4 linked regions of the Homo sapiens genome follow. The gene in region 3 interacts genetically with the main gene of each other region. Each region holds a gene or a part of one and is shown on either strand. Other genes may lie near its edges.

Region 1 (3,747 bases), on a different chromosome or scaffold from region 3:
AAAAATTCTTTTGTATTTCTGGAGGTATGATACATACACAATAAAATACACAAATTAGTATAAAACTTGACACAATTTAACTTATATGACAATGTAATAATACTCAAATCAAAACCCAAAAGGCTCCCTCCTTTAAAACTCAATTGATAGCCACTCACAAAAGTATATACTAGTCTGACTTCTGTAACCATAGGTTAGTTTTTCTTGGATCTGAATTTTGTATTAACAAAAACAGGTGTGAGCCACTGTGCCTGGCCAGAAGATGTCTTTTATACTGACTCACATGTTGACCTTTTTTCTATCACTCTTTATTCTTCCATTAGATCCAGTCAGGTCCCAAACTGTTGTGTCAAATTATAGTTTACCCTGAATCAGGACTTTTGTCATGTTTCTAAATAATGTAAACTTTGTAACAGTTTATTCAATTTAATCTCCTTCTGCCTTTCTGCCATTCTTGTAATTTCTACACGTTATAAATCCCAAATATTATTGTTTAAACAACCTGTATTACTTTATATTTAACCACACAGATTACCCTTTTCTCTGCTCCTTATTCCTTCATGGAGTCATGTGCTTTCATCTGGGATCATTATCCTTCATGCTGAAGACATTCCTTTACTTTTCTTATACTGTGTGCTAGCGATAACTTCTGTACATTGTGAATGCCTACAAACGTCTTTATTTCACCTTCAATTTTGAAAGTAATGTCTACTGGATAGAGAATTCCAGATAGATAGTTTTTCTTTTCCAATTTAAAAATGTCCTTTGGCTTTGATCATTTTTGTTGAAAAGTCAGCTATCAGTTTTATTATTGTTCTTTTGAATGTAATATGTTCTTCTCTACCCTCGCCCCCACCCTCCATGTCTGCTTTTAAGATGTTAGTTTTTAAGAAATTAAGCATAATGTACCCGAGTGTGGTCTTCTCTCTATATAAATTTGGATCTGTTCTTTTTATGTGTGTGTTTTTCAGTAGAGGCAAGGCTGCTCTTGAACTCCTGGCCTCAGACAACCCTACTGCCCTGGCCTCCCAAAGTGTTGAGCTTGGCCTGGCTCTGTCTTTCTTGTTTTGTGAGTTGGTATCTTTTTATTTGTTCTGAAGTCTTTTTAGCCATTATATATTCAAGTATCACTCCTCCTCCATTCATTCTCTTATGGGTTTCTAATGATAAACATTAATTCTTTGGACTGTATCATTCATTTTTCTTTTTCTTCTTTTAATAATAGAGACACAGTCTTGCTATGTTGTCCAGGCTGGTCTCAAACTCTGGGGCTCCAGTGATCCTCCTGCCTTGGCCTCCCAAAGTGCTGAAATTACAGGTGTGAGCCACCGTGTCCAGCCTGAACTCTATCTCACATATCTGTTCCACTCTCCTCTCTTTGTCCTGGCCCCTCCCTACCTCAATCCAATTTTTTCTCTTGGTACTTTAGTTTCAATATATCTACTAATTTGTCTCTGAGTTCACTAACCTGTCTTCTGCTGTATGCAGTCGTTATTAAACCTATCAAATAATTTCAAGTATACTTTTCAGTTCTAAAATATTCATGATTCTTTTTACAGATTCTAATTCTCTCTTCAAATTCTCCATTTTCCCCTCGAATTTCTCTAATAGTGTTATTTTTAAAATACCTATCTACTAAGTCATATAGGAATATAAAAGGTAAGATAAATCATAATTGTTTTTAAAAATACCATCAGATTTGAGTAGAAAGCTCATTAGATGTATCTTAGAAGGACTAAGATGTGCTGGATTGCAGCCCATGTGTGATTAGAAAAATTACCTTTGCTAATGTTTTCTTGGAGTAAATGTCAGTACGGAGACCAAAGTTCTGCAAATCAACTGGTTTTTCCTTGTTTTTCTCAGGAAAATTTAGCATCTGTTGAGCAGCAGGAACCTGAGTCAAATAAATGATAAATGGCTGAGTTAGCCTCTTTAAAGTCAAGAGGGTAAATGTTTTTAAAAATTTGTTTGGGCCAGGCGCCGTGGCTCACACCTATAATCCCAGCACTTTGGGAGGCCGAGGCAGGCGGATCACAAGGTCAGGAGTTCAAGACCAGCCTGACCAACGTGGTGAAACCCGTCTCTACTAAAAATACAAAAATTAGCCGGGCGTGGTGGCACGTGCCTATAATCTCAGCTACTCAGGAGGCTGAGGCAGTAGAATTGCTTATAACCCAGAGGTGGAAGTTGCAGCGAACCAAGATCATGCCACTGCACTCCAGCCGGGGGAACAGTGCAAGATTCCGTCTCAAAAAAAAAAAAAAAGTTTAATATTGGCACTTAAACCACTCTTGGTGGATTTCCTACAAAAAACAATAAATACCCACACTTCTACACTATACTTCTAACAAAAATTCAACATATAAGTCACATTTTGGTGTCCCTTTAAATCCCAGAAAGGATAACAAATTTTCATTACTATCTTCTATTTCACAATGGGACAAAATTTATACCTTAGGTTCCTGTGAATCCAACTTAATGCTATATATAATTTGTTTGACATAATCTGTTTTGATAATGTATATATGGATATACACTTTACAAATCTTAGGACAAGTTATAAAGATTTCTTTGCTTCACATTTCTAGAACACAGATTGAAGGAAGGGAAAGAAGATTTTGCATCATCTGCTTACTTATGAGTGTCTTTTTGATGACAGAAGGATAATTTACTTTTATGCATATAAAAGTAAATTAATAATTTGACAGAGTAAGGCATTCGGTCTTGGGATTGGTGGGACAGCATTAACTTAAACACTATATATTCTTTTGGACTGTAATATTTACAGTACACCAAAATACACACACAAGCAAGGATCAAAGAAATAGCACTAATAATAGCATTATAGTATAATAATAATTGTTTCTAAATAGATATGCTATAAATGGCCATTTGTTACTATCCAGGTCTGATGAAAAGTCAACATTAATTTACCTGAGGTGATCGAAGATGCAGAGGCACAAGCCCAGAGGGGGTATCAGCTAATACATTAAAATGAGGAGTAGGAGGAGGTCCCATTGCCATGGGTCTACTTTCCGGGTCAACTTGGTAATTAACGAGTCCCCACTGCTCTAAAAAGGCATGGACCCTAAAGAATAAAGCTCGGAAAGTTAAAATCTAAAGAATCAACTTCATGTGCTTTTACTATCATCATCATGCCATTAAAAAACAGAAACAATAAAACCAGTAAATGTGCTCAGCAGGCTGTCAAACATCACAAACTACTTGACAGATTTTGTTATGTGACGAACAATTTCTACAAGCCACAAGTAATGTTGATAACACAGCACCCCCAAACCTATTACAAAGCCTAATCATTTCAATCACAGAAATGAGAGCACGAATACGCATTTAGGTCCATGGTAATAAAAGAACTCACACATAGACCAAATACACACATTAAAAAAATCCGCATTTTTCGTGACAGAGTCTCGCTCTGTCTCTAAGGCTGGAGTGCAATGGTGCGATCTCAGCTCACTGCAACCTCCTCCGCATCCTTGGTTCAAGAGATTCTCCTGCCTCAGCCTCCCAAGTAGCTGGGATTACAGGTGACCATCACCATGCGCAGCTAATTTTTTGTATTTTTAGTAGAAATGGGTTTTCGCCATGTTGGCCAGACTGGTCTCGAACTCCTGACCTCAGGTGATCTACCCACCTCGGCCTCCCAAAGTGCTGGGATTACAGGTGTGAGCCACCATGCCTGGCCGTTTTTTTTTTTTTTTTAATTTCGGCAGAGCTAGGGCGCAG
Region 2 (3,747 bases), on a different chromosome or scaffold from region 3:
GGCCATCTTAATGCTTATGTTGAACTCAAGGTAGCCATTCTGCCTGGACTCAATGCCCTTCATGGAGCTCCCCAAATGATTCCTAAGGGTTCTGGCTGGAGAGGTACATGCGGGGCTATGAGCGCTGCAGTGACGACTCAGCCAAAAAGATGATGAGGGGAAGAACTCCTGGTGTTAAAAGAAATGCTCTAAAGCAGCTTACCAACACAGAATGCAAGCCACATCTGTAATTTTAAATTTTCAAGTAGCCACATTAAGAATTAAAAAGAGTCGGGCATGGTGGCTCACACCTGTAATCCTAACACTTTGGGAGGCTGAGGCGGGCGGATCATCTGAGGTCAGGAGTTTGAGACCAGCCTGGCCAACATGGTGGTGAAACCCCGTCTCCAGTTAAAATACAAAAATTAGACGGGCATGGTGGCACATGCTTGTAATTCCAGCTACTTGGGAGGCTGAGGCAAGAGAATCGCTTGAACCCAGGAGACGGAGGTTGCAGTGAGCCGAGATCGCGCCGCTGCACTCCAGCCTGGGTGATGAGAGCGAAACTCCGCCTCAAAAAAAAAAAAAAAGAATAAAAAGGAAACAGGCAGGTGAAATTTAAGAACACATTTTACTTAATCTAATATATCCAAAATGTTATATTTCAACATGTTATCAACATAGTAATTATTAATGAAATGGTGTACAGAGTTTTTGCTATACTATGTCTTGGAAATCTAGTGTATATTTTACACCTAAAGCAGTCCCAATTCGGACAAGCCACAGTTCAAGTACTCAATAAGCCACGTGGCTTACTCAATAAGCGGCTACCACACTGGACAATGCAGGTCTAAATGGAATCTACGCAAACCAAGAGGAAGTTCTGATTCAACTAGAAAATCTCCAAGAAATATGCCCATGCCTGAGTTTTCAGGACAAGGGGAAGGGAAGTCAATTTCCCGGAAAGCAGTTACCAATTTTATATAAGTACTCCATTGTGAAATCACAAGGAACATCAGCAGGGCTGGGATGGTCAAGGAGAAGGCTGCAGGGCGTGGCCTTGGGGAAGCAGGTGACCAACCAACAGGTGATATCAAGGCTCTGTCTGTCACCAGCAGAGCCCACCTTCTAACCATCGTTAACATTTTCACGGTGCTTTTCCTTCCTCCTTTTCATCTTCCAACAGCCCTATGAGGAAGGCAGGCTTTACCCCATTCCACATATGAAGAAACCAAGGCCCAGGCAATTTAAATAACTTGCTCATTTCTAGTCGCCACTCTTAGACTTGGACCCAGAATGCAGGCCTCACCCCTACCCCAGGGGTCTTCAATCAGTAGCTCATCAGAAACAGCCAAAAACCTATGGCAAGACCAAAGTAACTACCTACCTAGTTCGTGAACAACTCTCCACTTAATGACGTTTCATATGGCACCTCCCTTCTCTAAAGAGCTTATGAGTTTTCAAAACATCCTCATGCCCATATATGATCACCACTAAGGGATGTACTGGACTGCCCTAGAAATATCCTAAAAAAGCCCAACTACAGCCCAGAAGGGCTGGCCCATCCAAGGTCATTCCTGGCCCTCATCACCACATTCAACATCTCTTTTCTACTCCATGCTGCCTCCCTTGATAACACCTTTTACTTTTCAGATAAAATTTTTAAATGTCAAGGTTATTTAAAAAATATATTTTGTTGTTTTCTCAAACCAGTGGGTAACTTAATGATAGGGCAGTTTTAATCAACCACACAAGTGACTTTAGCATAAGATCTCCCTCCAACTCCAGCCAACCTTAAAGTGGCCTGACTGCATTCTCAGAGCTCTACAAGGTACTGGCTGCAGCCAGTGGGACCCCTGCCCTCACTAATCAATGTTCACATACGCACTGATCCAATTCTGCAGAATAGAAAAGTGCGTGGCAGATCAGGGTACACAGATCCTTTTCCTGCCTCAGGACTGGTTGAACGGGAACTGAAGGGCTACCTGGGAGGTCTGTCCTTTATTTACTTTACACACTTCACCCCTGTGGGGTCTCGCCTTTTATTTATTTTAGGCAAGTCTAACAATTTGGGGTTTCTTGGTTCTTCATAACTAGAGAACATGGGTTCCTTACATCTTTAACTGGGCCAACACTTAAATAATAGCTATTTATAGCTAACACACTGACTTCAAACCAGTGAGGAAAAGCTTCCTAGCCAATATACATAACTATTGCTGAATGCAATAAGGTGAAGGCTCAGAGTCACATTTTAATACCAAACAGCCTGGTTCTTAAGGAACTGATCACATGAAGGCAAGAGCTCAGTTATTCTCAAGGGAAAATAAGCATATTGCAGATAAATATACAAGAAGCTTCAAAATACCACCATCTGACCCCCAGAACAGTAAATACTTTCCAAAGTTCCTTCACTCGTGAAATCTTAAGATTTTCACAACTGTTCAGTAAACAGGTATAAAAGAACGAAAACAGAATCCCAGAGGTTTAAAAATGCACCCTGCTACACAGCTACCTGCAAGTACAGCCTGAACCTGGGACTTGCAGAAATGGGTCCAGAGGTCTCCCACCTGGGCCAGGTGCTCTGTCATAACCAGGACACCTGAGTATCATAACATCATCACTAGGACCTAAGGACCACTTTCACAGGATATGAGTTAGTGCTTTACCTTCCCTTTATTTAACCATATTCCAAGTCCATTCAAACTAAGGAAGTCCTGCAGAACAAAAAATATCACTTCGCACAAAGGATGAAAGAGCTGACACATAAGCAGCCCCCAGCTGCCAAGGCTCAGGGACTTCCAAGCACACCAGGTCACCTTTCTCATCAGGAATTCAAAGCTGAAGGTCAGCAAGTGTCTAGCCCAGGAGTGTGCTGGATTATTTCTAACATGTGATTTGAACAGTCTTGACAGCAGCCATGATGGCCTCCAGCCACGCCACAGTCCCGCAATCCAAGAGTCCCAGATGCAAAGGAAAGCCAACCAAGACCCCCACTGGGAACCACTTCCGCACAGCAGGCATGCCACGTCCTAAATGCAACACGACTGCACCCTGCCCAGCGGAACTCGTGCACTCAGAAGAGAAGGGAGGTCAAGGAGGAGGAGAGGAGAGAGAGAGGCAGAGAGAAAGCAGCAGTCAGCATCATTCTTACTTTTCTGGCAGCGGTTTGTGGTCCAGCAGCGGTAGTTGTACTCATTGTTGATGGTGGTCTTCTCACACATCGGCTTCTCCTCCATGGTCCCTGGACACAGGTCCCCACATTCCTTTGGGGGCTTATTCCCCACAATGTAGTTATTGGACACCGCATCCAGGATCAGGGACCAGTCCACAGTGGAGAGGTAACAGAGGTCAGCATTTTTCTCAATCCTGATGGCCCCCCGAGTAATGTTCCTCAGGTTGTAAAGCCCAATATCCTTGAGATTGGTCATCTCGAAGATGACCAGGGCGTAGTTGTAGAAGAGTTTCCAGCCGCGGATGACCGTGAGGTTGGGGAAGAGGTCTCCGAGGCTCTCGAGGCCAGCCACTCGGAACAGCAGCAAGTACTCGGTAATGACCGTGAGCTTGGGGAAGCGGTAGCTGCGGTAGTCCTCGGCCTTGGAGATGAGCAGGATGTGGAGGTAGCCCTCGATCACCGTGCAGTTCTCCAGGCGCTTCAGCTGCTGATAGTCGTTGCGGATGTCGATGCCTGGCCCGCAGACTGAAGGGAGACAAGAGGGTAAACGTCTCAGTTAGAAGGAAATAATTTTTAAACTATTTTCCAAACAATAA
Region 3 (3,747 bases):
TGTCCAGATCAAAGGACATGAGGGTATGGGAAAGAAAACACCTACCGCTTCAGAGGAAGCAGTGTCCTCAGGGGAGAATTGGACTTTAAGTTAGGACAAGGAGGAAGAAACATGCAGAGAGGTATTAAAGAAGAGTGAATGTTTAAACATTAACTCTTTTCTATCCATGAGGACAGAGTTAAACATTAATAACTCTCTGAATGTTTTTCATTCATCATCTCTAGTCATTGTCCTCTCTCCTTCCATTCACAGCCTAACAGTCCTATCAATACTAGTTCTTAAATTTCTTTGGAATCATCTCATTTCTCCAATACCATTGCCCTAACCTATTCCAAGCCACCAGCCTCCCACTTCTAGACAACTAGCAGAAAAACCTACAGCACCCTGAATCTTTCCCTATTCATAAAAAACAATGGAAAAAAAATAAGGAAGTCAGAGAAATATTTTTAAACCGAAGATATGACTATGTCATAGTCTTGCTTAAAATCTCTCAGAGGTCTCCCCAGTGGTCTTAAGTTAAAGCCCAAAATCCTTAACATGGCTTACAAGGTCTTCTTCCACAAATTGGCCACTAGCGACCTCTCTGGCCTCATCTCAAACCTGTCTTCCTCTCCCACTTCCCTGTTCACTCACTCAACAAATATTTAATGAGTGCCTATGGTGCACCATATACTGTGCTAAAGCACTGATGATACAATGATGAACACAACAGACACGGCTTGTGCCATACTGATCTTTCAAGTTTCTCAAAAGCATCAGACTTTCTAAAATCTAAGATTTTTCAAATACTGCTTCCCCTGTTCAGAATCAAATCTGCCACTTACTTTGCCTGCCTAGCTTCCCTTTAATCTTCAAATCTTAGATTTAATGTAATTTCTTCAGGAAGAAAAGTCTTCCCTGTCCCTTAGACTTGGTCAAACACTTAGCTATAGTACCCTGACTTTCCCCTTTATAATTATTAATAAACAAAATTATTTCTGTATTTTTTTCTACTGGACATTATAATCTCCATGAGGACAGAGATCATAGCTATCATGTGTTGTTGACTTGTGATAATAACTTTGCAATTACCTTTTCTTCCACAGAAAAACAAACAAACTTGTAGTTTAAGGATATTACCTTTCTTGAGGGGTTTGTTGTACCATCTATCTTTTTTGATGTCTGGAATGGTAATTCTTGCTGATGGATTCTCAACTAAGATTTTATGCAGCAGAGCTAAAAACAAACATTACGACAACATTCACGAAAGAATCATGTTAGAGAAGCCTATGGCTTGAGGTAAGAAACACATTTTCTGTTAGCCTACTTATGTCTAAATATTATTCCTGGGGAAGAGAAAGAATTAAAGCTACTAAATTACTGCTTTAATTTCATGCAGTTTTTCTCTGCTGCTGTATCTTGGAGTAGTCTTCCCTGATCTGATTCTCAATTGTTTGCAACTGAGAACAAGAGCCAGATGGAAATGTTTCTCCTCATGTGACGAGATTAACAAAAAGATACAGAAACCCCTCTTATCCATTTTCAATACCGAATTTCATTACTTCAATGTCATGTTCTCACGTGACCTCCTTATTCACACAGTTTTATAATGAACATTTACTTACCAATAACTTTTTAAGAGACAGTAATCTAACTAACCATCCTAAGGTATCTTAATTTTCTTGAGAAAAAATTCACGTATCTTCCTATGTGAAGATTATTTCCTAATGGACCAAAGATTTAAATGGAAAAATGAAGCCATAAAAACACTAAATGAAAACATAGGGAACTTTTAAATAGTAGAGGTAGAAGACCTTTCCAAAGAAATTATAGTCAGGGACCACAAAGGACAAGATAATAGATTTGAATGTCAATATAGCAAAACAAAATGAAAATAAATGATAAATTGTGAAAAGTATTTGTAACAAGTGCAAAGGTCAATGTGTTATCAAGGAAAAAAAAAAGCTTCAAAGTGGTAAGAAAAACAATATCCTTGACAAAAATGAGCAAAATAGACAAAAAACTAATACATACATAAAGGGTATACAACTTCATTAGTATTAAATTTAAAATAAAAATGAAAAACTATTATTTAAAGTTTTTTTCCTTAATGTAAATTGATGAGACTGTGATGAAATGGTTCGAACTTTCGGGAAGCAATTTGACAAAATAAGCCATAATAATAAAAACTACATCCTTGATCCTGCAATTTTGCTTCTGGGGATTTCAATGAACAATTTAAGGGTATGTGTCATGATTAAGTTACACAGATACTTATATCTCTTTTGTATCTGTGAAAATTTAGAAAAATCTCCAACAAAGTGATTAAAAGAGTAAAGTAAGGCATATCCACATGGCAGAATATTATCACAGCCTTTAAACCAACGATGTAGACCTACAATTATAGTCATGGAAGAATGTTCGCTGCGCACTAAAACCAAAAACAGTTACAAAATATTATTAGTGTGATCTCATTTTGTATAAAAACACATATAAATAATATACATATATTCATTTTACATACTTATGGGCCACATTAATGATGTTTCAGTCAGGAATGGACCACACGTATAACAGACAGTCCCATTAGATTATAATACTGTATTTTTACTATACTTTTTCTATACTTAGATACACAAATACCATTATGTTACAATTCCTTACAGTGCTCAGTATAGTAACATGCTGTACAGGTTTGCAGCCTGAGATCAATAGGGTATACCAAATAGCCTAGATTTATAGTAAGCTATACTATCTAGATTTATGTAAATATACTCTATGATGTTCACACAATGATGAAACCACCTAATGAAACATTTGTTAGAGTGCATCCCTATAATTAAGCAACAAACGAGTGTATTTGCAACAAAGTATAGCACATATGAAAACTTTAAGTAAAAAGCCATCTAAGAGCAGATTCAAGTTGCTCTGAATATACACTCCCCAAAATATTTTTAAAAATCTATTGCAGAGTTCTGGGACTAAAGAGTTATTTTTTCCTTAATTTTTTACTTATAGTTACTATTTTATCTACAACGAACATGAATTATTTGTAAGTTTAAAACAAAAAAAAAAGTAAGAAAAAATTCAAATAGCACAAGACTTCATATCCAAGAAATCGGTACTCTTTCACTCAAGATAATTCAGTTACCTAGAGGAGCAGAATCGATTTTTTTCCAAGGGTTGAGGTATGTTTTTTTTTCTTTCCAGTCAGAATACTCCTGACAGCTGTCACTGGGTTGGTCCCATGGCAATTCTAAAAACAAAGCAAGTCCCAGTTTTTTTAAATGTTCTTATTATAAAGATTTCAAGGAAAAATAATAATATAAATCCATGAAAAGTTTCCTTTGAATTAATTCAATATGGTTTTCACACTAAGAATCCCAACTTGGAAACTTTAGAGGCACTTCAAAGATAGATGAATCAGGATAGGCATGGCAGCTCAGGCCTGTAATCACAGCACTTTGGGAGGCTGAGGCAGAAGGACTGCTTGAGCCCAGGAGTTCAAGACCAGCCTGGGCAACATAGTGAGACCCCATCTCTACAAAAAATAAATAAAATTAGCTGGGCGTGATGGTGTGCATCTGTAGTCCTGGCTCCTCAGGAGGCTAAAGTGAGAGGATCACTTGAACCCAAGAGGTCAAGACTGCAGTGAGCCAAGATCACACTGCTGCACTGCAGCCTGGGCGACAGAGCAAGACTTTGTCTCAAAAAAAAAAAAACCAAAAAACAGATGAATCATTTCTTGCCCTAGTCTTGTTTTCACAA
Region 4 (3,747 bases), on a different chromosome or scaffold from region 3:
GTATTCAAGGACAAGGAAGAGTCAACATGTCTCACTTTAAATCAAAACCTAGAAATAAGACTAAGTTTAGTGAGGAAGGCATATGGAAAGCTGGGATAAGCCAAAAGCTAGGTCTCTTACACCAGTTAGCCAAATTGTGAATGCAAAGGAAAATTTCTTGATGGAAATTAAAAGTGCTACTCCAGTGAACACATGAATAATGATCAAAATAGCCTTATTGCCGATATGAAAACGTTTTAGTGGCCTAGACAGAAGATCAAACCAACCACAACATTCCCTTAAGCCAAAGCCTAATCCAGAAAAAGGCCTTAACTCTTTAATGCTGAGAGAGATGAGGAAGCTGCCGAAGAAAAGTCAAGAGGCTACCAGAAGCTGGTTCATGAGGTTTAAGGAAAGAAGCTGTCTCCATAACATAGTACAAAATGCAAGGTGAAGCAGCAAGTGCTGATGGAGAAGCTACGGCAAGTTATCCAAAAGATCTAGCTAAGATCATTGATGAAGGTAGCTATTCTAAACAAAGATTTTCAATGTTGATGAATATTGGAAGAGGGTGACATCTAGGACTTTCACAGCTAAAGAGAAGAAGTCAACGCCTGCCTTCAAAGCCTCAAAGGACTTTGAAGGACTCTCTTGTTAGGGGCTAAAGCATCTGGTGACTTCAAGTTGAAGCCAATGCTCATTTACCATTTGGAAAATCTTACAGCCCTTAAGAATTATGCTACCTCTACTCTGTCTGTGTTCTATAAATGAAACAACAAAGCCTGGATGACAGCACATCTATTTACAGCATGATTTACTGAATATTTTAACCCCACTATTGAGACCTACTGCTCAGAAAAAAGATTTCTTTCAAAATATTCCTACTCATTGACAATGCACTTAGTCATCAATATGCCTAGTCATCCAATAGCTCTGATGGAGACATACAAGGAGATTAATGTTATTTTCATGCCTGCTAACAACAACATTGATTCTGCAGTTCATGAATCAAGGAGTAATTCTGACTTTTTTTTTTTTTTTTGAGACAGGATTTCACTCTGTCACCCACGCTGGAGCGCAGTGGTGCAATCTCAGCTTACTGAAACCTCCACCTCTTGGCCTAAAGTGATCCTCCCACCTCAGCCTCCTGAGTAGCTGGGATTACAGGAACGCACCACACCATGCCCAGCTAAGTTTTCTTTTTTTTTTTTTTTTTTGTAGAGATGGGAACTTGCTATGTTGCCCGGGCTAGTCTCCACCTCCTGGACTCAAGTGATCTGCTCATCTCGGCTTCCCAAACTGCTTTGATTACAGGTGTGGCCACCATGCCCAACTGACTTTCAAGTTTTATTATTTCAGAAATACTTTTTGCAAGGCTGTAGCTTCTACAAAAAGTAATTCTTCAGATAGATCTGAATAAAGTAAACTGAAAACCTTTTGGAAAGGATTAACCATCCTAGATGCCATTAGGAACATTAGTGATTCATTGAGAAGAGGTCAATATGTCAACATTTAGAGGAGTTTGAAAAAAGTTGACTCCAATCATCATGGATGACTTTGAGGGGTTTGACTTCACCAGAGAAAGTAACCACAGAGGGGCCAGGCACGGTGGCTCACGCCTGTAATCCCAGAACTTTGGAAGGCCGAGGCGGGTGGATCACCTGAGGTCAGGAGTTTGAGACCAGCCTGCCCAACATGGTGAAACCCTGTCTCTACTAAAAGTACAAAAATTAGCTGGGCTTGGTGGCGGGCGCCTGTAATCCCAGCTACTCAGGAGACTAAGGCAGGAGAATCGCTTGAACCCAGGAGGCAGAGGTTGCAGTGAGCAGAGATCACACCACTGCACTCCAGCCTGGGCGACAACAGTGAAACTCCATTCCCCACCAAAAAAAAAAAAAAAAAAAAAAAATGAAAGTAACCACAGATGTAATGGAAAAAGCATGAGAAGGAAGATTAGAAGTAGAGCTTCAAGATGTGACTGAGTTGCTTCAATCTCATAATAAAAGCTGAATAGATGAGATGCTTCTTGTGGAGGAGCAAAAAGTAATTTCCTGAGATGGAACCTATTCCTGGTGAAGATGCTGTGAACATTGTTGAAATGACAGCAAAGGATTTAGAATAATATGTCAACTTAGTTGATAAGGCAGCAGCAGCATTTGACAGCACTGACTCCAATTCTGAAAGAACATCTACTATGGATAAATGCTATTAAACAGCATCACAGGCTACCAAGAAATATTTCATGAATATTTGCTCCATCAATGCATCAAATCTCACTGTTGTCTTATTTTACAAAATTACCACAGCCACCTCAACCTTCAATAACCACTACCCTAATCAGTCAGCAGCCGTCAACATCCAGGCAATTCCCTTTTCCAGAAAAATAGTATGACTTGCTGAAGACTCAGATGATCATGAGCAATTTTTAGCAAGGTGTACATTGTTTAGCAAGGTATAAGGTGTACACTGTTTTCTTAGATGTAATGCTATTGTACATTTAGTAGATTATAGTATAAGCATAACTTTTATATGTACTGGAAAGTCAAAAAATTTGTGTGACTCGTGTGTCACTTTATTGCAGTAGTCCAATCCAAACTTGCAATGTATCTGAGGTATGTTTGTGTACAGAAGAAAAATTCACTCTCTTCAATGTTCACTAAAACGTTGAAATTGTAGATACAATATAGCTAATATCTATGAACAACCATGTCTATAAATAGCAAGCTATAAATTTCATTTTTTCCATAATTCCCTGTAAAAATTTAAGAAATAATCAATAGGATGGGCACAGTGGCTCACGCCTGTGATCCCAGCAGGAGATTACAGGAGCAGGAGAATCTGAAGCAGGAGAATCGCTTGAACCCGGGAGGCAGAGGTTGCAGTGAGCCAAGACTATGCCATTGCATCCCAGCCCAGGCAACAAGGGCAAAATTTCGTATCAAAAAAAAAAAAGAAATAATCAATATGATGTGACCAATTTTATAGTGTTTAACCACAAAAAAGGTTAGCACTTACAAAGTGTACTTGCAATTAAGAGATTCAACTCTCTGGTTCTACACTAATTCATAAAAAGTAAAAAACACTTGGTGGCCAGCCGTGGTGGCTCACACCTGTAATTCCAACACTTTGGGAGGCCAAGGCGGACAGATCATCTGGAGGTTGGGAGTTCGAGACCAGCCTGACCAACATGAAGAAACCCTGTCTCTACTAAAAATACAAAAATTAGCTGGGTGTGGTGGTGCACGCCTGTAATCCCATCTACTTGGGAGGCTGAGGCAGGAGAATCGCTTGAACCCAGGAGGGGGAGGTTGCGGTGGGCCAAGATCGTGCCATTGCACTCCAGCCTGGTCAACAAAAGCAAAACTCTGTCTCGAAAGAAAAAAAAGTAAAACACGTTTGTTTTTAGAAAATAATTTAGTGTAATCACATTAAAAGCATGGAAACAGTTGGAGGGGGAGCAAAGTACTGACAAAAGACACAATCACCTTAAGTATTTGTCTAGTATATAAATATATCAGAATAACGGAAATTTATTACATATGCAATATTTATATAGTAGTCTATGATGATAATAGGCTTTACACTTCACAACACAGAATCACATTATAGAAACCTCAGATTCACACATACTCACCTCTGCTGTCATTCTAGCAAATAAGTCAGGAGGAATATTCCCACAGAGGACATTTTTCCTTAAATTTGGATTTTTTGCATCTTTAAGATTTGATATCCTACTTCGTACTCTATTTTTGTATTTCATGTCTGTAT

The links.
Region 1: changes in CHEK1 (region 3) and SMARCC1 are lethal when combined (synthetic lethality), as found in Homo sapiens cells (one large-scale study listed by BioGRID).
Region 2: changes in CHEK1 (region 3) and IGF1R together harm fitness more than expected from each alone (negative genetic interaction), as found in Homo sapiens cells (one large-scale study listed by BioGRID).
Region 4: changes in CHEK1 (region 3) and TCEA1 are lethal when combined (synthetic lethality), as found in Homo sapiens cells (one large-scale study listed by BioGRID).

What each region holds. Positions count from the first base shown.
Region 1 is NC_000003.12:47,673,695-47,677,441, forward strand, and holds part of SMARCC1 (SWI/SNF complex subunit SMARCC1), read right to left. Parts: intron 3,089-3,747; coding exon 2,935-3,088; intron 1,895-2,934; coding exon 1,781-1,894; intron 1-1,780. UniProt on the Homo sapiens protein: Involved in transcriptional activation and repression of select genes by chromatin remodeling (alteration of DNA-nucleosome topology).
Region 2 is NC_000015.10:98,707,491-98,711,237, reverse strand, and holds part of IGF1R (insulin-like growth factor 1 receptor isoform 1 precursor), read right to left. Parts: intron 3,677-3,747; coding exon 3,131-3,676; intron 1-3,130. UniProt on the Homo sapiens protein: Receptor tyrosine kinase which mediates actions of insulin-like growth factor 1 (IGF1). Binds IGF1 with high affinity and IGF2 and insulin (INS) with a lower affinity. The activated IGF1R is involved in cell growth and survival control.
Region 3 is NC_000011.10:125,634,917-125,638,663, reverse strand, and holds part of CHEK1 (serine/threonine-protein kinase Chk1), read right to left. Parts: intron 3,236-3,747; coding exon 3,131-3,235; intron 1,216-3,130; coding exon 1,120-1,215; intron 1-1,119. UniProt on the Homo sapiens protein: Serine/threonine-protein kinase which is required for checkpoint-mediated cell cycle arrest and activation of DNA repair in response to the presence of DNA damage or unreplicated DNA.
Region 4 is NC_000008.11:53,980,750-53,984,496, forward strand, and holds part of TCEA1 (transcription elongation factor A protein 1), read right to left. Parts: coding exon 3,614-3,747; intron 1-3,613. Other genes in the region: LYPLA1-TCEA1 readthrough, read right to left, coding at 3,614-3,747.